Homo sapiens: one gene and its partner. The protein of the gene in region 1 interacts with the protein of each later gene in a pairwise test. Each region holds a gene or a part of one and is shown in the gene's direction. Other genes may lie near its edges.

Region 1 (11,368 bases):
CGCTGGTGTGAGAGATCGTTGGAGGAAACCAGAATCGTTCTTGTTGGATCACGGAAGGCAGAGAAAGAGAAGAATCCAAGAGAAAACTCTCTTGGTCTAGTATTTAGCAGAGTGACATCTGTATCACAAATGTCATGGCTAGCAAGGGTTGCCAGCCTTCGGGAAAATTTGATAGATTTGGCTTTAGGTCATTTAGTTGTAGGCAATAGTGTCACATGCTGATGGCCTTTGTTGTTGCTGTGTTTTGTAGGTGGATGAAAATGGTGTCTGCCGAAAGCTCTTAGGATGAAAATGGTGCCTGCCACAGGCTCTTTACTTAGGATGAAAATGGTGTCTGCCACAGGCTCTTTACTTAGGATGAAAATGGTGTCTGCCACAGGCTCTATACTTAGTCATTTGTTGCATTTCTGGAAATAAGTACAATTTCATAGTAGTCAGCGTTCATTTTTGCAATGTTGACACTTAATTTTACAATTTCTGGAAACACTGGAATTAGGAGAGCTAAGGTGTTTCAGTTTCCTTTTATGGTCCTTTTCTCCTTACTCCTACAATCTTAAAATAGAGTATGAGCTTGCTCTTTCCACATCAAAGCAGTTTCAAAGATTTAATTTTCAGATTTTGTGGGTAGGATTTACCTTTCTAACCCTTGGCCACTCTTCTCATGTTTCTCTCTGATTGCCTCCTCACACTGCTCCTTTGCTCCCCTTCCTTCCCATCTCTCTCCCTCAATTGCCTTCCCACTTAGGTCTCTCCCCAGGAAATCTCAAGTGCAGCTATTTCGCAGACAACCAGATGTTAGAACGAGGAAATGTGGCCTTGCTAATCCACCTGGGACCTGGAAAGCAGAAACTACATAGTCTTGATAGAGCATTTCAAATGTATCTCTATTTCTCCCTTATAACTCTTAATTTTTTAAAAACAAAAATCTGTCCCCTTATAGGATTTAAATATCATAAGCATTTTCCTGTCAGTGTTCTGACAGTTTTTCTTTATGAGACAGCAAACACATCCTCCAAAGTATTTAATACTGGGTGTCCAGTCCCTAGTTGTTAAATGAATAAATGAATGAACGAATGATGAAGGCAGGCAGAACAGTCTATCTGCTTTTTTTTATTTTCTCCATATTGCTTTCAACTTTTTCTAGATTATTTTTTCCCAGGGGGTGTGTTTTTCCATCAGCACTGCAGAAAGACCTGGAAGTAGTCACCAGGTTCTGTGAAATGTCTTACACATTGAGGCTGCTTAGAGTTTAATTAAGAACCTAAACTGTTCTTACATAAGACTGTTAAAATTAGGAAAGGAAGTGGTTTGCCAAATTATAGGCAGCCCTAGATACATAACCAATATTAAAAAGAAATCAAATGTAAAATGTAAATCTACATACATATATGTGTATGCTGTATATGCCTTTTCTGTACTGATTTCTTTAGATTTATTACTCGGCAGAGTATGTGTGGTGCTTTTGAGCATTACTATTGATAAACGCCATCTAGTGGTGTAGAATAGCAGATGCTCTATAGGTCAATTCAACTAACATGTCATTATTATTGTTATTTCATAAAAGTAGAACCAAAAACACTCGTTAAAGGATCCTGTCTGTCCCAAGTAGAAATAAAATTTGGAAGATCAAGACATAAACTTTAAATCTGCTATGGAAGAACAGAGAAAGATCAATACAGTACTTTCTCTCAGTGCAATCCATCCACCCACTCCCTATTCATTCATCAGATATCGATCAAGACCACGTCTTTTGCCAGGTTCTGTGTGAGGTGCTGGATATAAAGTTCCAGTCTCCTCCTTGAAGGACAGCAGCAAGTGGCAAACACTGATGACCTACTGTGTCTTCAGCTGTTTTCCTTCCTCCCTCCCTCTCTTCTTCCCTCCCTCTCTCCTTCTCTCCCTCTCCTTCCCTCCTCTTCTCCTTCCTTTCCTCTCTTTTCTTTTTCCTTCCCTCCCTTCTGTCCTCCCTCCCTCCTTCCTTCCTCCCTCCTTCCTCCCTCCCTCTCTCTCTCCCCCATCTCTTCCTCCTTTCCTCCTTCTTTCTTTCTTTTCTTTCCTTCCTTTCCTTCCTTCCCCTCTCCTTCCTTCCAAGTAAGGCAAGAGGCAGAAGACACCTCTCATAGTGATAAAGTTAGTACAAGTTGTTAACCTGTGGGTCTGAGACTAGAGAAAGTGAAAGAGATAACAAGGGGTATAAAATGTAAAATAGCTACGGCCAAGAGTTTGAATCATCAGAAAAGAAATAACCCACCTGTCTTAGAAGATTCTTGGAGATACATTAGATTGGACACATTGCAGCAAAGACAAACATTGGATTTTAAATTTCTGAAACATGCGATTAAGAACACAAGAAACTTTTCGCTTCTGAAGGATATTTGTCAGTGATCCTTAATCACGCAATCCAGGATTGGCCATTCCAGATCTCCATGTCACACATCTATACAACATTAAATTCAAGTTGGCATTTTAAATGTGTTGTCTTTGCAGTAATCTGAAAATTGCTTCCTCTGTGAAACTCCCAGCTAGGTAGTATTTTATTTCCTTGAGGATCGTCTCATTATTTATCTGTAATAATCCGCATCCCCCAGAGCAGAACTGAACACAGAGTAGGCCTCCGTAGATATCCACAGAACTGAGACTTTTATATTAGATGGGTTTCTTCTAAGGCTATTATGGACAGTATAGGGTACTTAGCACATCATTTATGTTGTCCTATTGGTTTTATGTTATTCTAGTGGTTTTCATTTTAAGATAAACATGTGCTTTGTTTTTTATCATGACTGGTAGTACACTAAAGCCAGTAACCCAGCTTTCTGAGCTGCAGCTGAACCATTTCTTTTAAAATTGCAGCAGAACTTTGTATTTCTTAATTTACCTCACAAGACCATATTCAAACATGTTTCTGTTGTAAGAGGTTTCCTTTAAAAAAAAAAAAAAAAGAAAGAAAAGAAAAGTTGAAGCAGCACCCATGTGCTTGTCTGTCTGTGAGGACTTCCCTTCTAAGAGGAAAACAGAACCTGACATGGATGAAGTGCCATGTAAGTGTTTGTTACACAAGTGAATAAGCCTGTGCTTGGCCAAAGGGCACCGCTGTTTCTCAAACATGCCTGACACAGGCAGCTCCTGTGTCTTCGCCCACAGTGCTTCCTCTTGCCAGGGGTAGAGTGCTCTCTTCTCTCCTTCTCGCCTGGCCAGTTTCACATCCTTGGTCAGGCCTTTGCTGGTTGGCCCAAGCCAGATGGCTGGCTCTCCTGCTCTCTCTGTGGGCGCCACTCATTGGTGATCACGAGCACCTGCTCTCAAGTTCTTCTCCTCATCATAAAATTCATATACTCTAATAAATATTGCCCTTTGGGTCCTTAGAGTCCAATATAATACCCTGAATGTAATATGCGTTCAACGCCTATTTGTTGCAAATTATACATCTTCATTTGACATAAAAGAAATACTTATTAAAAGATGGTTAGTAATAGAAAACGGAAGGAGGAAATAAGGATAGGAGTGTAAACCCTTATTTAACTTAGGTATTCAGGTTTATTACAGTGTACACATTTCATCTGTAGGTAGAATCTTGCTGCAGTGTGTCAAGAAAATAAAACTCCCGTTTTGCTAAATTCAAACGTAAATAGCTAGAAGTACCAGGCAAGGTCAGCCAAGAAGTGCAAAACCTTGGAACAGGGTAGACAGTTGGTATGTCTTTGAACTCCAGCTCTCTTTACACTTAGAGAAAAATAGGTAAGACTGATGTTGGAATTATTTCAGGCGTGGATGTGCTGGAAGAAAACTGTAAAAAGAATTAGGCCGGGCGCGGTGGCTCACGCCTGTAATCCCAGCACTTTGGGAGGCCGAGATGGGTGGATCACTTGAGGTCAGGAGTTCCAGACCAGCCTGGCCAACGTGTTGAAACCCCATGTCTACTAAAAATAGAAAAATTATCAGGGCTTGATGGTGCGTGCCTGTAATCCCAGCTACTTGGGAGGCTGAGGCAGGAGAATCACTGGCACCTGGGAGGCGGAGGTTGTAGTGAGGCAAGATCATGCCACCACACTCCAGCCTCGGTGACAAAGCGACTCCATCCCCTGCCAAAAAAAGAAAAAAGAAAAAAAAAAAAGAATTAATCCCTTTAGTTTGTTTCTTTGGGAACCCCTAGAACACGATGCAATTCACAGGAGAAAGAAGAATTTTGAGGGATAGAAAGTGAGGCTTGGGCAACAAGGGGAGGGAAAATCTTGGCCTGGGGGAAGGCGAAAGTGATAAGTTCACACTAGCCTTTAGGCAAATACAAGTTTATAATTCACCATTGATGTTTGTCTTCAAAATTTCAGCAAAATGTATAGCTTTAACATAGAATGATTTTCAGTAAGATGTCCTGAGGCAAAAAGGATGCAGTGATATCTTCATAGGTGCTGCAATTCCACCGTCTGTGCTAAGTTTCAGGCTGTTTGCCTAAAAAGGCAAGAAACAAGAAGGCTGCTGCTAGGAAGACCAGCAAGGAGGGACACACACATTAAATCTAATACTATTTCTGGAATATTTTATTTGGTGAAGAAGGTTCAGAATCATTCCTGAGATGTGTCTCTTGAGGATCTCTTGTGGTCGGCCGTGAGGTGGACACCTCGTGGGTTTTGCTCTCGCCTGTATGTATCACCATTGTTCTGCACAGCAAAGGGGCTCACTCAGGACCTGTTTGTTGAAAGCAGGAACATTCCGATGAAGGCCAGCCTCATGTGACGTGGAGTTCTGGGAAAGTAAGAAACTCCCACGGACCTTCATAAACGTACACAAATATTTACTCTGCACAATCAATTACAGGCATTAAAAAAAATACTGCCAACCTTGGTAGTGGGGCTTAGGATATTTCAATTTTAGTTTGGAAAGCACAAGAAGTGGGATGGGAAGGTGAGAGAGTGAGAATTGTGGCTAACACCGTCATCGAAGAGTGTCTGGTCAGACTTCCTTCCATATATGATCATTATGTACTGGATATTAAGGAACACATCAAAGGGATGGGTTCCTCTTCATCTATTAGACAGTGTACATTTGTAGCTGCAGCAGTTAAGACCCACCTCAATGACAACCCACTGACCAAGGATCTGCTCCGGATTGTAGTGGATTTGTGCCTTAGGGATCAAAATGCTGGAGGAGATGTGGTTCTTCTCCTCAAGGCCCTTATAGACAATGAAACACGCAATAAGGTGAAATGTGATCATGTCCTCCCTAGGCACTCCCAGGAAAAGTTCCTTCACGGCTGCTCCTCCTGCAGGGTTTTGTTGAGTACACAGGAGATAACATTGATACCTCTTGTAGAGTATCTACAACATATGAGGATACACCTGTGAGTTGGTGAGCTCTTGAAAAGCCGAGCCTTATGTCCTGTGCATTTTATATTCCCAGCACCTAGTATGGTCTGGAACATCAGAGGATCTCCATAAATCTGTTTTTTTTTTTTTTTTTTTGAGACGGAGTCTCACTCTGTCACCCAGGCTGGCGTGCAGTGGCATGATCCCGGCTCACTGCAAGCTCCACATCCCGGGTTCACACCATCCTCTTGCCTCAGCCACCCGAGTAGCTGGGACTACAGGTGCCTGCCACCACAGGCGCCTGCCACCACGCCCGGCTAATTTTTTGTATTTTTAGTAGAGACTGGGTTTCACCGTGTTAGCCAGGAAGATCCTGATCTCCTGACCTTGTGATCCTCCCGCCTCAGCCTCCCAAAGTGCTGGGATTACAGGCTTGAGCCACCGCGCCCGGCTTCATAAATGTTTGTTAAATGAATACATGACAATCTTGTAAATGCTGATAATGGGGTGACAATTGGGAAACTCATCAAAACCTGGAGTGCTCAGGAATTGTATTATGTCACAGGATTGCTTCTTGACCTGTTTAGTTATATCTAATCCCACAGATTATACCTATAATTTAAAAAGATACGAAAGATTGTATAATGTGTACATGCTTCAGATCACAGAGAAATATAGTGTGGGAAGGACCGCCTCTATTTACCTTTTAACAGGGCTGTGTTCTAGGAAGTGTTTGTGATAGGGAAGTAGAGATAACACTTTTTCTTCAGGAAGAAGTCTGACTCTAGAAGGGGAGAAACTGAAAGCCCCAATCCAGTCTCAGGGAACCCAGCTCAAAACTCTGACAAAAAAGCCTGCTCAGGAAATTCTACGGTGTGGCTGGAAGGTAAGTTAGAGGCTGCCTCCACCTGCTTTATTATTCCTGCGTATAGATGACTGTTGCTGTCCATTTAGGCAGAGTCAATTCCAGTCTAGCTTAAAAGATTCTTCTGAGACCCTTTAATCTTTCAGCATCTAATTCAAATGTCAAGCAATTTACAATAATAGTTTCAAATAATGCTTCCTCACAGGTGAGTCAACATTTCTAAGAAAGCAGAAAAGTTGGGTATAAAAAGTTCAATTCTTCCTCGTCGGAAAAAAGATGCAAGACATTTCTACCGTGGGCTGAGCGCTGCCTGGAGGGCAGGGAGGAAGGGGTGAGCGGACCGCGCTGGGATGTGGGTGCCTGGAACTGCCAATCTCTCCGTTTTCCCCTTGGCTCCTAAAGGTCTCTTAGCAGCATTTCCTGCACGCTGGCACCCCCTGTCCTCCTAACGTTTTACTGCCTGCGTGTTTCTCTGTGCTTCCCCACCCTCCGACCCACAGGGCCCGGGGCGCCCTCCGGGGGCCGGCACACAGCAGGGTCTCGCTTCCTCGCGCTGTCTTCTTCAGATGGGATCACTTCGACTTGCGGCCGTTTGGGCGTTCGCGGGGCCTCGGCGATTCTGTGGCGTCCTGGGCTGTGTATGTAGCCCCAGCGGCCGAGGCTCACGGATCCGACCGCCCGGCCGCCGCGTCTGTCCCAAGTTGGGAGACGGGAGGGCCGGGTGGGGTCGCGCCTGCGCCAGGGGGCGGCTCAGAACCAGACTCGCGGTTTTTAACTTATTCCTCAGAGGGGCGAAAGCGAGTCTCGACAAGGACGGCGACGGCTCTCTAGAAGCCGGGGTCCAGGTAGGCTGCCCGGCCCTCGAGCTCGCCCAGCGCCGCTCATGATGCGCCCCGCAGCCCCCTCCCCAAGAAGGGCGTCCGGGCCCCTCCTGGACGCGCAGCTCCCGCGCGCCGCGGGGCCTGGGAACAGCGCACCGGCTGCGCCCGGAGCCGGGCGGACGGTGAGACTGACGGCGTCCGCGCCCAATCGTGGGGCGGGGCCGAGGGGGCCTGCAGGCAGCGACCAATGGGAGCCCGCAGAGCGGGCGGGGGGCGGTGCCGCTGGGCGGGCGGGCGGTGGCATCGGGAGCCGGCGCGGCAGACTGGGAGCCCGGGAGGAGCTGGCGGAGCGAGAGGAGGAGGAGGACGGAGGAGGAGCACCGCGCCCCCGCCGGCCGCCCGAGCGCAGGCCGAGAGCTCCAGCCGCAGCCAGCGGGTCCGGGCCGCCTCCGCCGGAGCCCGGCGCGGGGAGAGTCCGGGCCGATGGGCAGCCCCGGGCAGCGGCGGGCGGCGAGGCGGCAGCCCGGGTACGCGCCGCCCGGCGCGCACAGGCTGTAGCAGGTTCCGGCGGACGGCGTTGCGAAGGTTCGTGTCGGGGAATCCGACGGGCAGCGTGGCGAGGGTCGGTTCGGGATGCCTGCGGCCAGGCGGGGACTGTCCCGAAGGGGAAGGGGATGCCCTTCGGGGCGCTTTGGGGGGCTGACGGCGGCGAGGGGTGCGAGGGGCGCGGGGGTGCGAGGGTCGCGGCGCAGGGTCCGGCTTGTAGACGCAGATGCGCCCGCGCTCCCGATCCCCGGCTGGAAGAGGAGCCGCCGCCGCCTGTTCTCTCCAAGTTATCGATCGGCTGAAAGGTTATTCCCGTCTCGGCGACACAGGCACTGAGGAGGGTCTTCTCCAGGTGCCCAGAACTTCGCTCTGACTAACGCTCTCTGGAAGGGCTCGCGGTTGCCCGACGCAGCTTCCCCGGCGCGCCTGGCCAGCTGACGCCGAACTTGCTGCGGGGCTAATTCCCCTTCTAGAGGGGGTGCGCCCGGAGCGCGCGCCCTCACCGGGACGGATCCCTCTTTGTAAGACCGGGAGCCTCCGGCGAGCGCTCTTCTCACTCACCGCGACCTTTCTTCCCACTTTGCCAGCTCCTGGGCCTCTCCGGGTCTTCCCGTGTCAGTGAGGGTAGTTTGCCCACGTCCTGGGAATATCCCTGGGAACACCTACAGATTAATTTTCAGCCGTGCCGCAAACCCAAAGAATCAATTTCGGCTCATCATCTGCAAGAGAGAGCCGAGGCTTCTCGGAAAGAGAGAACAACTTGGCATTACCCCTGTGGGAGATATTTGTCATCATTAACCTGCTTGAGTTAAATTAATTCAGCCCAAGATGACTCTGGCCTGAGTATTGGAAAAAATCAAGTGCATTGGTTACGGAATTGTGCTCACCAAAACATGATTTTGGTCAAAACAAAATTGTAGACATTTTGGATTTTGGTTAGATTGAGACTGGGTTTTGACAAGGATGGCTTTTTTTTAAAAAAAACAAGGAAAAAAACCCTCAAAGAATCTTGGTGATTCTCATGTCTTTGCCCAGTAAGTTCAAAATAGTCGCACAGATTTTTCTTTTCTTTGCCTCTTTTGTCTGCAGTCTCCATTCTAAACGTTAACACTAGATGGCTTTCTTATGACAGACATTTAGTAAACTGCCCATTTGAGTCGCGTTTGTGTGCAGCCTAGGTTGTAATTTTTCTAGTGTTACAATTAGTAATTGAAGAAAAAAGATCTCCCAAACTGTTGCTTTTTATTGCTTTCCTAGAAAACCTACACATACCGATATTTTTGCGGATATTGAGAGGTGGCCTATTATTTTTGGCATTCCCAAAGTTGAATTTCAAGAGACAACTTGGTTACTGTATTTAGTTACATCATTTAAGAATGCTTGTTTCATGTTTGGACTTATTTAAAGAATTCAGAGTTCTGTTAGTTTTGTCATTCTGTTTAGACAATATTTCCAGTTAAAAGATGTTTACCGCTTGATTGAATTTCACTGCTTGATTCAGAGTTATAAGAGAGTATTATTCATGAGAAAAATGCAGTCTTTCTTAAGTTTTGGGTATAAATCACATTGATTCTTCCTAAAAGATTCCATTGATCCATTTTGGGAAGAGATGCAGTTAAAGTATCTGCATGATTCATACCAGGGATTGTGTTAGGGACATCTCCCCAGAGGATGTTTGATTTTTTCATTTCTAAGCACAAGCCCTTTTATGACAAGCACAATAGCCCGTAGTTTCAGCAGTAACAGCAGCAGCAGCAGCAGCAGGCTCCCAGTTATGTTTTTAAGCACTTTTATTCTAAAGCAAGATCACGGCAGCCTGTCCAAATCTTGCCTAGGTAGGCAAACTTATTTATACGCTGAGTAAATATCTTGAAATTATCTTTGTAGCTATCATTTATTGTGTGCCTTGCCCAGCTTAAAATAAGACATACTGAATTTGTTCTAAATTAGAGTGTATTCATAAATAGCTGAAGGAAAAAGAAGAAAAACTACAGAGCAAACATCTGGGAAGTAGGAAATGAAATCAGAAACAGCTTTTATCAGTACCCACATTCTACCTATAGATGGGGTGAAATGAACCTGGATAAGAAGCAGTGTAAGCACTTGATCCGGAAAAGCAAGAGCTAGATCACAGGTATGGGGGTGGAGCTTCTGGCTTTTAGTATGGGCCACAGATTTTACCCAGTTGCTTTAAGTATATGTTTTTCATTAGATGCTTTTTATGTTTTGAAATCATAGATTTTCTCAAAGAGCTTTAATTGTATGGAATGTAACTTTTAGTCTAATAAGGGAATTATCAGATCATGATTTGGCTTCTATGATGCTTACTGTAGTTAAAGCTGTGTAATATGGATTTGGAAGGTGTTTTTTTTTTTCTCCCCCTCACCCCGCAAGACTGGGATGGTGTTTTGAAGGGTTCCTTGATACCTGAGCTTAGTAAACACTTGTCCACCTTGGGGATCTTTTTACCTGAGGCAAAGGAGAAGCGGGTTATTATTTTGAAATTAGCAGTCTATTTCTGAAAGTAAGGAAATACTAGCTACCCTGAAAAACCAGTTGTTTGGTAATTGAAACTGGTTTAAAAGCACTGTGTTTGGGCATCGAAACTAGTTTAAAGGGATTGTGTTTCCTGCATACTTTGCAAAGAACTATGTGTTTATGTGGATACAGCCCCTTGCCCCCAACCATAATTGGTAAATGCAGCGTTATTTTTTGAGATTGAGGAAGGCATTGAGTTTTTGAACTTCTGATCAATTTATGGTGGTAGTTGAGGATTACAAATCCTTTTAAAGACACACTGAATTTGAAGAAAATTTAGACTAGGGTATTGTTAATTGAAAAGCTGCTTTTTTTTTTCTTTCTGTTTTGAACTTCAATGAAATACAAAGTACAGTCCTAGAGAATAGTGAACCATGTTCTAGGTTTTCTACTTCTGTTAATGTGCCTAATTCATTTGCAGAGTGAGAGTAGAAAAAGCTTTAGGCACAGACAGGAACCTTGAGCTTCCTGCCTCTACCACCTGTCACAAATGAATTTGGATGAAACTATTTTCATGATCCCTTTCAGCACCAAAATTTGGGGTTTCTTTAAGGTTTAAGACGAACGCATTAGAGTAATGAAAATGCCTGTCTGACTGGGATGTTTATATTTTTCATGATTATGTCATTTCTTTGCCTTGGCCTATAGTAAGTTTGTATGTGAATGCTTTGCATGAGGGTCATAGCTACTTGGTTTACCTTGAAATCAATGATTCAGAAATTGCTTTTTGTGTTCCAGTTGCATGTAGCTGTGACTCCTTTTAAAAGTGTGGTAACAATGTGGTAGGAATTTAAAAGCTTCCCAACTTTAGACATAGATTATTTTGATCCTTTCTGAACTGGATTCATAAACTTTGGTTCCAAAGAACAGCAGCTGTAGAAGGGAGCCAGATCTTGACTCACTGTTGAGGTTCTGCTTCTTGAGAGATTTCATATTTAGTGCAACCCAATTCCTTGGTTCGTTCTTCTCCCCCAGTACTAGATAGCCAAGTTGGGTGGTAGGAAGGAAGAAAATATGCAGCAAGTCGAGTCTAGTTGTCATGCTCCTTTGGGCCAGAAAGGACCTTAAAGATTGTCTCGTCATGTTGTTCCTATACCTTTTGTTTTCGTCTACCTGTAAAATGAAAAAAAAAAAAAAAAGCAAATATTAGGGATTGTCAGATATGTCAGCATTTAATGTTGCTACATAAGTGTGTTTAAAATTGACAACAGCAGTTACTACCTATTGTCAATGCATTTCGTCAAAATCCTTTTGATGTACCAAAAAAGAGAAAAGGTGGGGAAAGGGGGAAGAATATG
Region 2 (10,699 bases), on another chromosome or scaffold:
CCTAATACATGTGAAGTACTAAATGAAATGATAAATATTGAGATAAGTTTGCATCTTAGATTGCAAAGGATTATCTCAGAAATATTCCTAGCAGAGTTTCCTAAGACAGTCGCTTACATGATGAGCGTGGTCTTTGTGGAAAGACTAAGGGAGGTCTTTGCCTGAGTGTGCTAGAAGGGGCTTAAAATTGGCTGGCTGGCTTCTGCAAATATCCAGTATCATTTTTACTGAATAATTATTTGCTTTGCTGATATGAAAGGACACTGGTCTTTTGTATCATTTTAGAGTCAGCATGATATACTGCTAGGAACAATTAAGAGAACTGACTTCTGGTGTTGTCACCAGTTTGCTCTGACCTTAAGTCCTCTGAACCTCAGTTTTTTAATCTGTTAAAGGGAAATAATACTACTTGCCTTTTCTCCTTTATAGTTATTGAAATTCAAATAAAATAATGTACATAAAATATTTACAAACTTTAAAGCATTATGAAACTATAAGGTTGTGTAGATGTGGTCATAAACTCTTCCATGACTGCTTTATCTTCAGGGAACATATTTGTCAAGGTATCTGAGTACAGTTCCCATATTCATTATAGTCTATGAACGACTGTCTTCTGTTTTTCTGGCAGAACCCTAGGCTTCTGGATGATGTCAGCTTTCACCCCTGCATCCGGTTCAAGCGTTGGGAATCTGAAAGAGTTTTGTCATTTATTCCTCCAGATGGAAATTTCCGACTCATATCATACCGTGTCAGCTCACAAAAGTATGTTGATGCATCAGCCAGAATCTGCCATCATACATATCAAGTACAACTCACCTTTCCCTGTTTCTTTCTGAAAGTTGAGTACTTGAGGTCATCACTGCTCACTTTAACCATAGCTCACCAGGAGACCCAGTGAGAACGGGTGAAAATACGCACCTAAAATAATCCGTATACTTTGAATGTATGAGTGTAGAGTGGTACTAAGTGAGACTAGAGTAAAATCTATAGCCAAGAACAAGCAAACCATACATAACCTGGGCAAAAATTGTGGTACCGGTCCTTTGCAAGGTTATGCATGGTCAAATTATGGCACTGGTTCTTTGCTCAGGTTATGCATGGTCCATTTTGCTCTGCTTCTGAAAGCTGAGTACTTTGCAAGCAGAGCAAAACGGACCATGCATAACCTGGGCAAAACCATGAACCATTGCCATAATCTTACCATAGTCTGTAGAGTTTGTGGCCAACAAGGAGACAGACCTACCTGTAGTTCGTGAGGACATTCCCCAATTTACCTGCTTCAAGTACGTCTTCTCTGCGTTGAGTTTTTAAGGAACTGTTTAGCATTGAGGGGCCGGGTGCAGTGGTTCACTCCTGTAATCCCAACACTTTGGGAGGCCAATGTGGGCAGATCACTTGGGGTCAAGAGTTCTAGACCAGTCTGGTCAACATGGTGAAACCCTGTCTCTACTAAAAACACAAAATTAGCCAGGCGTGGTAGCGTGTGCCTATATAATCTCAACTACTTAGGAGGCTGAGGCATGAGAATCACTTGAACCTGGAAGGCAGAGGTTGCAGTGACAGATCACACCACTGCACTACAGCCTGGCCAACAGGGTAAAACTCCATCTCAAAAAAAAAAAAAATTTAGCATTGGGGATCGGAGTTATAGGTAGTTTGTTTCTTGAAAATACCAAAAGTTATTTGAGTAACATCATGACAGAACTCAAAAACAGAGAAATTATTTCTCGGCTCTTTTCTTTTCCTTTTTTTTTTTTTTTTTTTTTTTTAAGCCGGAGTTTGGCTCTTGTTGCTCAGGCTGGAGTGCAATGGTGAAATCTCGGCTTACTGCAACCTCCACCTCCAGGGTTCAAGTGATTCTCCTGCCTCGGCCTCCCAAGTAGCTGGGATTACAGGCATGCACCACCACACCCGGCTAATTTTGTGTTTTTAGTAGAGGCGGGGTTATTCCATGTTGGTCAGACTGGTCTCGAACTCCAGACCTCAGGTGATCTGCCCACCTCAGCCTCCCAAAGTGCTGGGATTACAGGCGTGAGCCACCGTGCCTGGCCTGTTTCTTGGCTCTTATCACATAGGAACTGTTTTCATTTATATAAAACATATTTTACATTATTTTTCAGTGGGATCATAATTCATTTTAAACTAGGGCCATTTGCCCCAATTGTTTTTGTTTGTTTGTTTTATGTTATTTTGTTTTGTTTGTTTGTTTTGAGACGGAGTTTCACTATTGTCACCCAGGCTGGAGTGCAATGGTGTGATCTTGGCTCACTGCAACCTCTACCTCCTGGGTTCAAGCGATTCTCCTGCCTCAGCCTCCCAAGTAGCTGGGATTACAGGCACCTGCCACCGCGCCCAGCTAATTTTTGTTTTTTGTTATTTTTTTTTTTTATTAGAGAGGGGATTTCACCATGTTGGCCAGGCTGGTCTCAAACTCCTGACCTCCAGTGATCTGCCTGCCTTGGCCTCCCAAAGTGCTGGGATTACAGGTGTGAGCCACTGCACCCAGCCACCCCAATTGTTTATACTGTTATTAAACTTCAGATTTCTGTCTTGATTTGTATACAGTTCCCAGCACAGTGGTACAAGAACATTATGCTGTACTCAGCTCCCCCTTGTGTAGATACTGAATCTGCAGTTCTAGAGGTACTGCCATCTTGGTATCCTTGGAGGACTGGTTGCAAAAATCAGCAGATGCTCGAGTCCCTTACATAAAATGGTGTAGTATTTGCATATAACCTATGCACATCCTCCTGTATACTTTAAATCATCTCCAAGTTACTTGTGATAGTACACTGTAAACACTGTGTAAATAATTGTTATACCATGTTGACTTTTTATTTTTATTGTAGTTATATTGTTATTTTTTACTTTTTTTTTTTTTTTTTTTTTTTTTTTTTTTGAGATGGCGTCTCGCTCCTTTGCCCAGGCTGGAGTGCAGTGGCACGATCTCAGCTCACTGCAATCTCCGCTTCCCAGGTTCAAGCGATTCTCCTGCCTCAGGCTTCCAAATAGCTGGGACTACAGGCATGAGCCACCACACCCAGCTAATTTTTGTATTTTTAGTAGAGACGAGGTTTCACCATGTTGGCCAGGCTGGTCTTGAACTCCTCACCTCAGCCTCCCAAAGTACTGAGATTACAGGTGTGAGCCACCGCGCCCAGCCCTAGCTAATTTTTGTAGAGACGAGGTTTCATCATGTTGGCCAGGCTGGTCTCAAACTCCTGACCTCAGGTGATCCCCTCCCAACCCTGGTCTCGGCCTCCCAAAGTGCTGGGATTACAGGCATGAGCCACCACGCCTGGCCAATTTTGTGAAATAATATTTTCAATCCTCAGCTGGTCAAATTCAAGGATGCAGAACTGTGGCTACAGAGAGCCAACTCTGTAGTACCTTATTGTGGAGTTAAAGGCAGGGTAGGATACTCTGGACAGAGGTTTTCAGGATACCTCTGGAGCTCTCCCCACACCATTAATTGTGTTTGTGCTTTTGTATCTTTCTCTGTTTCTCTTTTTAGTCTAGTGGCAATACCAGTGTATGTGAAACATAGTATCAGCTTTAAGGAGAACAGTTCTTGCGGCAGATTTGATATAACAATTGGACCAAAGCAGAATATGGGGAAAACTATTGAAGGAATTACAGTGACAGTTCACATGCCAAAAGTTGTGCTGAACATGAACCTGACACCCACACAAGGCAGCTATACATTTGATCCAGTCACCAAGGTACAGCCACTTCAAATCAAGAGTGAGCAAGTGTTTCTGCAATCTATTTTGTGATTTGTGGGGAGGAATGGAGGGAAAGGTTTGGCACCTTGTTTAAAACTAAAGTTCGTATCAAAACCTAGAGAGCATACTGTGCTGTGCTTCTGCCACTGGCTGCAGAAGGAATCCTGCAGCTGCTACTGAGTAGATGAACAGAAAAATGTGTCATTCTGTCCTTTTTCAGAGTGTGCCTTCACTCATCCATTATTAATCCAGAGCCTGACTCTGCTATCTAATAAGAAAGAAGTAAAAGCTTTTTTAAAAAGAGAAAACATTATGTAGATTGAAGAAGATATTATGATGGTCTATGAATTACTAAGTTTTCTATATAAATTGATCACTAAGACCTTTTTCTTCCTTTATAATTTAAAAGCATTATTTCATACTCTTTCACAGGGCTAGGAAAGTTGCTTCCTCACTCTACTTAAATTTTTGTGTAACAGAGGGTTTTCAGAGAAACTGTAGCAGATGATTTTCTCTCAGCTTCCTGATTAGCTGGTAAATATGATTGTTTTCAATAGCAGAGTCATTGAGCTACCTGATAAATGAAAAGACATGTTTTTTGAATAACATCATAGAATGTTAAAGATTATTTAATACAGTTGTAAGGATTCAAAGAACCTCCTCCTGGAGACCACACAGGGCTGAGAAAGGGAGCTTCAGATTCCTGGCCCTTTACCACAGCTTCAACTATGACAGCTTTGCTTTCTTTCTCATCTGCTGTTGAGCCTTCACACCGAAGATTTCATTTGAACAATGGGTTTCACAGCTAAAAGTTTTAAAAACACCATCTTAAGTCAATCTAATTATTTTACAGAAAAATAAACAGAGGCTGGGCGCAGTGGCTTACGCCTGTAATCCCAGCACTTTGGGAGGCCGAGGTGGGTGGATCACCTGAGGTCAGGAGTTCGAGACCAGCCTGACCAACATGGAGAAACCCCATCTCTACTAAAACTACAAAATTAGCTGGGCATGGTGGCGCATGCCTGTATCCCAGCTGCTTGGGAGGCTGAGGCAGGAGCATCGCTTGAACCTGGGAGGCAGAGTTTGTGGTGAGCCAAGATTGCACCATTGCACTCCATCCTAGGCAACAAGAGTGAAACTCTGTCTCAAAAAAAAAAGAAAAAGAAACAGGCCCAGAGAAAAGTGAAGATGGTTATGATGGAGAACATTTGAAATCAGAGGGCCTTAGGTTCAAATCCCAGCCTTACCTCTGACTAACTATGTGACCTTGAGCGAGTCATTTGATCTCTGAGCCTTAATGTCCTCTGAGCTTTAATTTCCTCATTTGTAAATAGAAGACAAAAGCTACTTCACAGCCCTCAATGAGACAACATATGAATAATGCTAAGCACGGTGCTAATACAAAAGAAAATGCTCAACAAATGTAGATTCTCTGCTCTCACTCCCCATTCAAAGTCACAGAATTAATCAGAGGTAAACTCACTGTAGATGCCAGATCTCTTGTTTTCAAGAGACTGCACTTCAGTTTGTACAGAAGTTTATGATATCTTTGAACTTTGTTTTTGAGGGTTTGTCTTTAATAAATGGTTCTATTTGTTTTTCATTTTTTGTCTTTTTAAGGTACTAACATGGGATGTGGGAAAAATTACTCCACAAAAGCTCCCAAGTCTTAAAGGACTGGTAAATTTACAGTCTGGAGCCCCCAAACCAGAAGAGAATCCGAGCCTCAACATACAGTTTAAGATCCAGCAGCTTGCTATTTCAGGTAAGGATAAGGTTGACTTGTAGTTAAGGGTAATTGAGTTTTGCAAGCTCATTTATTAGGCATTTAGAAGAGTAACAAAAGTTTCCTTCTCTAGAAAGAGCAGTAGCCCATTTGCCTTTTATACTGTGCTTGGTGGGGCAGTCTCACAGGCACCGACCAAATGATTTTTCAGAGCACCTTATTTCAAACAGCTTCCCCTCACCTCCGCCCTCATTTAAGCACCAAAAAGAGAGTTATTCATATTCACAGAAAGTAGAATTATACTTCACAGACATTCCCTGCCTGTGTGGGAATCTTAACCAAAACCATACCATCAAAGTGCAATAATTTGTAAATGATAGAAGAGACATTTCTTCCAAATGGTGGAAGGGACACTGGTTAATGTCAGATTTACCATATAGCGCTCATTGCTAACATTATATTGGTTGGGATGATGATAATTTATTCTTTTTCATTCTTTTTGATACAGGCTTAAAAGTAAACCGTTTGGACATGTATGGGGAGAAATATAAGCCATTTAAAGGAGTCAAATACGTCACGAAAGCTGGAAAGTTCCAAGTGAGGACATGAGAAGAGGCCAAAATTCCTCAGGACCAGTTTGTTTTCCAAGTGTCATTACGATGTATCACTATTAGGTACCAAGTGAGTGGGAATACATATTCTAGTTAAAGCATTTGTGTCTAGCTACACACCGCTAACAAAGTTACTTAGTTATCAATGTAGGATTCTTAAGGAGCTTTAAGCTAAGGAAACCTTTTAGTGACTTAGCTTATTTTGTATCTTTTCACTTAGGAAGATTTTGGAGGTGATTTTTTTCCATAGGAGGATACCATCTGGCGGCTGCACATTGTAACAGTAAAGGCAGAAAGCTGTAGTGATAACCTCTCTCCTAAAAGAGTTAACTGGTCTCATCCAGCAGAAGCTATCTTAAATCTGTGATGTGTCAGGTGCAGCCAAATATCACACCTTCTGATCTTAGCCATCCCAAACCAGTATCTGTCCCGAGAGGAAATTCCCCCCACCCCCAGAAGTTTACAGAAAACTGCCTCTTCAAGTGTTTGCCTTATTCAGCTTTTCACTTGTGCCATTAAGCAAGCACTGTAGCAAAAGCCACTTCCACATGGCCCTGGCAGGGAGCACTGCTGCTCCATGCTCCATTCTCACTGTACTTGGTATTGTATTTTTTATAAATAAGATTTTTATGTAAAGCTTAGAATTTGATTTACAGGGACCTTGCTGCAGTAAATACCATCTCAATTTTGTGCCACTGGTTCAGCTGTTAGCACAGTAAAAAAATCATTTGTATCAAAGGGGCAAATGCTTTATTAAGGTAGTAAAAGGGAACATTACTTCTGCTTTTAGGAAGTTACTGCAAGCACAAGCATTTGTGCTTTTAAGCAAATTAAAGTAGTAAAAGAAAAACTTAAGTGAAACCTTTGCCATCTTCATGTTTTATAATATAAAGCTTACCCAACACCAGTTAAGCCATGGTTAACCTAAATGCCTCATGCCCCAGTTCAGCAAAAGGAGGAAAATGTGCCTGCCTCACAGTCATCAGTCTTTTTAAATCTTTTTTGTTGTTGTTCTTAAGGGTTTGAATTTGTCTGCATTCCTTGTCTTTAGGGGAAATTCCCTTTTCATATTGTGTGCTTCCCAAAGCTATAGTCATAGATTTCTTCCAGAAACTATTGTCATAATTGTCACTGGAGTGCTTAAATATACGTACTATACTGACAAAATACATGGAAGTGAGTTATAATGAGGCAGAAACAAAATCCTCGGTAACATTGATGATACTCTACCGATCACCGTGGTTTTGGAAAGTCAGTCAACAGTTGTATTATTGCACTCAATTTCATTGTGACATTTTATTTAACTTCTTCATCTTGGTGGTCCTTGCCCAGTTATTTTGCCTCATTAGACATCAAGAAATGGAGAAAGACTGAAAGTTAATATCTTAAGTGCTTGTTCTTCATGTTTCCTTCTTGTTATTTATGCTATTCTCTTTGTGGCTCCATTCTTCTTTCAATCTTCTCAGCTTATAACCGTCTTTCCCTTATGCTAAGGATAGCCCTTACACTCATCCCATCTATGCTGTCAAGGGCTGCTGGTTGGTGCTGGTACAAGGAGCCCACTCAGCAGTTTTCTTACCTTTGCCTGCCCTGCCTTTCATGGAATAAGAAAGGCAACGTTTTGCAGCTTCCAAATTTCTGAAGAAACTAATCTCAGATTGGCAGTTAAAGTCAAAATGTTGCCAAATATTTATTCCTTTTGCCTAAGTTTGGCTACCCGGTTCAATTGCTTTTTATTTTTAATGTCTTGACTCTTCAGAGTTCGTACCTCAAAAGAACAATGAGAACATTTGCTTTGCTTTCTGCTGAATCCCTAATCTCAACAATCTATACCTGGACTGTCCAGTTCTCCTCCTGTGCTATCTTCTCTTCTATCCAAGTAGAATGTACGCCAGGAGCTCCTTCCCTCTAGCAATTTCTACTAAAATGTCCAAGTAGAATGTTTCCTTTTACAATCAAATTACTGTATTTATTAATTTGCTAGAATCCAGTAAATCATTTTGGTAGCTCTGGCTGTGCTATCAATAAAAAGATGAAAGCAACAAGTTGATTTTTTTTAGGTCTACTATTGATTGAACATTCTCCAATGGGCAAGGCTCATTGTCAAAGCAGGGTGAACATGATCAGATTTTCTTCTGCATCATCACACAAGCTGCGAGTGTTGCTGCAAAGCACTTCTCAGTACTCCTTCCCTAACCTCAGTATGTTAATAGCCATTCATACTTGGCTTAAGCATCACCATTCTGGCCACAGTCTGAGAGATTAGTGATCAAAGCTCCCTTCCCTATCACTACCACCACCTACTGATAACAAAGATTTCTGAATACTTAGTAGTAGTAAAATATTTTTCAAGCACAGAGTTACAGCTAATCCTGGATCACTTGTTCTAAATTCATAAGGGAGTATATCAAGAGCAAATGAAGTAAATGATTCTTTCCTGCGTGTGGGAGTCACCATCATTTTATTCAAAGGGAGTTCCTGTGATAGGTTCATTCCTTAAGTGGTGCTACAGAAGGACCCTAGGAAAATGCTGATCTTGTCCTGAGAGGCAACTGATTTGAGAAAATGATTATACTACAGCAGGAAGGCAGCACCAGTGAACATATGGTAAATGGCAAAAACAAGACAGTTTTAGAAACTGCTAATTCAGTAGCAGCCTTGGCCTTTCCCTTAACTCAAGCAGGCTGGAATCTGTCTTTATAGTCGGCAACTTTCCAAGATAAAGCAGTGATAATAGCAGTTGGCAACACTAAATATCAATATCATCACCCTTTAATGACATGTTACCCCTTTCAGATCTAGAAAATCAGGGAAAAAGTGATGTCCCAACTCTACTCTAAAAACCTGCTCCTACTATTTTAGTCAGTGTTTCTTTAAGGAAGAAGAGGACTATGTCCCCAAAAGCTAACTCTGTTTTATAGCCCTGGTGGATCCCTGAAAACCCTATTTATTCTATACTGGGCTTTGGAATATGAAAAATGGACCTGTGTGGCCGGGCGTGGTGGATCACACCTGTAATCCCAGCACTTTGGGAGGTCAAGGTGGGCGGATCACTTGAGGTCAGGAGTTCGAGACCAGCCTGGCCAACATGGTGAAACTCCATCTCTACTAAAAATACAAAAATTAGCCAGGCATGGTGGCGCACACCTGTAATCCCAGCTACATGGGAGGCTGAGGCAGGAGAATTGCTTGAACCCGGGAGGCAGAGGTTGCAGTGAGCTGAGATTGCACCACTGCACTGCAGCCTGGGCAACAGAGCAAGTCTCTGTCTTGCAGCAGGGGGAAGGACCTGTGGTACTCCTACAAACTTAACAACTTTAGCTTTTCGGGGAACAGTGGTGGTCTCCACAGATAGCTAGAATCTTCTAAGATGAAAATAAACTGTTTCATCCAGCTGCTTTCTGCCTGTTAACCTTTGCCACTTCCATTCCTTCAAGTGTGTAATCCCCAGGGTTGTCTTGTATTACACACATCCTTGTTAAGTAAATATACCACTGTTGATTTCTTCTTCCAGTGCAACATTTGGATTAAATAAAAATCTTTAGTTTCCAGATCTTGAGGATTAGTTTCATTGACTATTCATCAAAACAAAGGAGAAACCTGACCTAAAAGTTCTTGCTAAAGTAACATATCCATCATTTAAAGCATTTTTTATACAAATGCATTTTATTGTTTTAAACAGAACAAAAGAAGAGGCAGAAAATATTTGCATATAACAAATCCTAGCTTATAAATGTAGTTTTTTAGCGGTGATGTCTCTAATCATCATTCAGGGATTTTTTTTTTTTTTTTTTTTAATTTGCTTCACTGTGTCTCGAGCACTGATATTGGAGAAAAGCACATCCGGCATAAAGTGTAAACCAGTGTCTCAAACCACTGGAAGAACCGGGAGAGCAAACATGATTTTTCTTATTTCCTCTAAGTAATCTTTCTTTAGTAAAACAACAAGTGATCTTTGGCATAGATTCATACTTTAAAGGCATTAATATTGCATTTATATCAGGCAAGCAACTATACAAATATGCTGAGGGCCTTGAAAATAATCATCCTCATTATAAAGGAAATAGTGAAAGCCTGAGTGTAAAGGACCAACTTAAGTTGTACACATTCGATGTTGGGAACTAACACACAGCGATGGGTGGGAAGGAAGGATGTTCAGGCAAGGTTCTTACTCCTTTACTCATCTGGTTCTGGCTTTGGGAAAAAATAAGGTTTCATGTGCTGGGAAATACTTAGCAGTAATAAGTACCAAAAAGGAAACACTGCCCTCTCATTTTGCCTAGTAGGAACTTACTGTGGTGATAAGAAATATGAAACCCATTACTCTCTTGAACCCCATACTTGGGAGTAGATGCAGAGAGCTTGGTTGTAGTTGGTTGCAGGGAGGTAGGAATTACAGGAGTAGTATTTCCCATTGATTCATCTTCAGCAGCACTAGAATTCTAGTCTGCAAATACCACTCTCCCTTAGGCAGGAAGTGTCCTTCAGACAGGGCTGCCTTGCCATTAAACACTCTTAGGGGACAAGCACTCCTCTTTCTTAGGACTGAATTTAAAAAGGATCTTTTAGAGTTACAGATGAACAAACACCTACATGTCTTTAAAATCTTGTTTAGAAAGGATGTGGAGGAAGGCTAC

What was found.
Region 2: the proteins of SIPA1L2 (region 1) and AP3M1 interact in binary tests that used the Homo sapiens proteins (3 or more experiments, as listed by UniProt).

The regions. Positions count from the first base shown.
Region 1 is NC_000001.11:232,626,072-232,637,439, reverse strand, and holds the start of SIPA1L2 (signal-induced proliferation-associated 1-like protein 2), read left to right. Parts: upstream 1-7,306; 5' UTR 7,307-7,571; intron 7,572-11,368.
Region 2 is NC_000010.11:74,119,171-74,129,869, reverse strand, and holds the end of AP3M1 (AP-3 complex subunit mu-1), read left to right. Parts: intron 1-628; coding exon 629-762; intron 763-3,514; coding exon 3,515-3,722; coding exon of another isoform or gene 3,723-3,744; intron 3,745-5,345; coding exon 5,346-5,490; intron 5,491-5,959; coding exon 5,960-6,060; 3' UTR 6,061-9,615; downstream 9,616-10,699. UniProt on the Homo sapiens protein: Part of the AP-3 complex, an adaptor-related complex which is not clathrin-associated. The complex is associated with the Golgi region as well as more peripheral structures.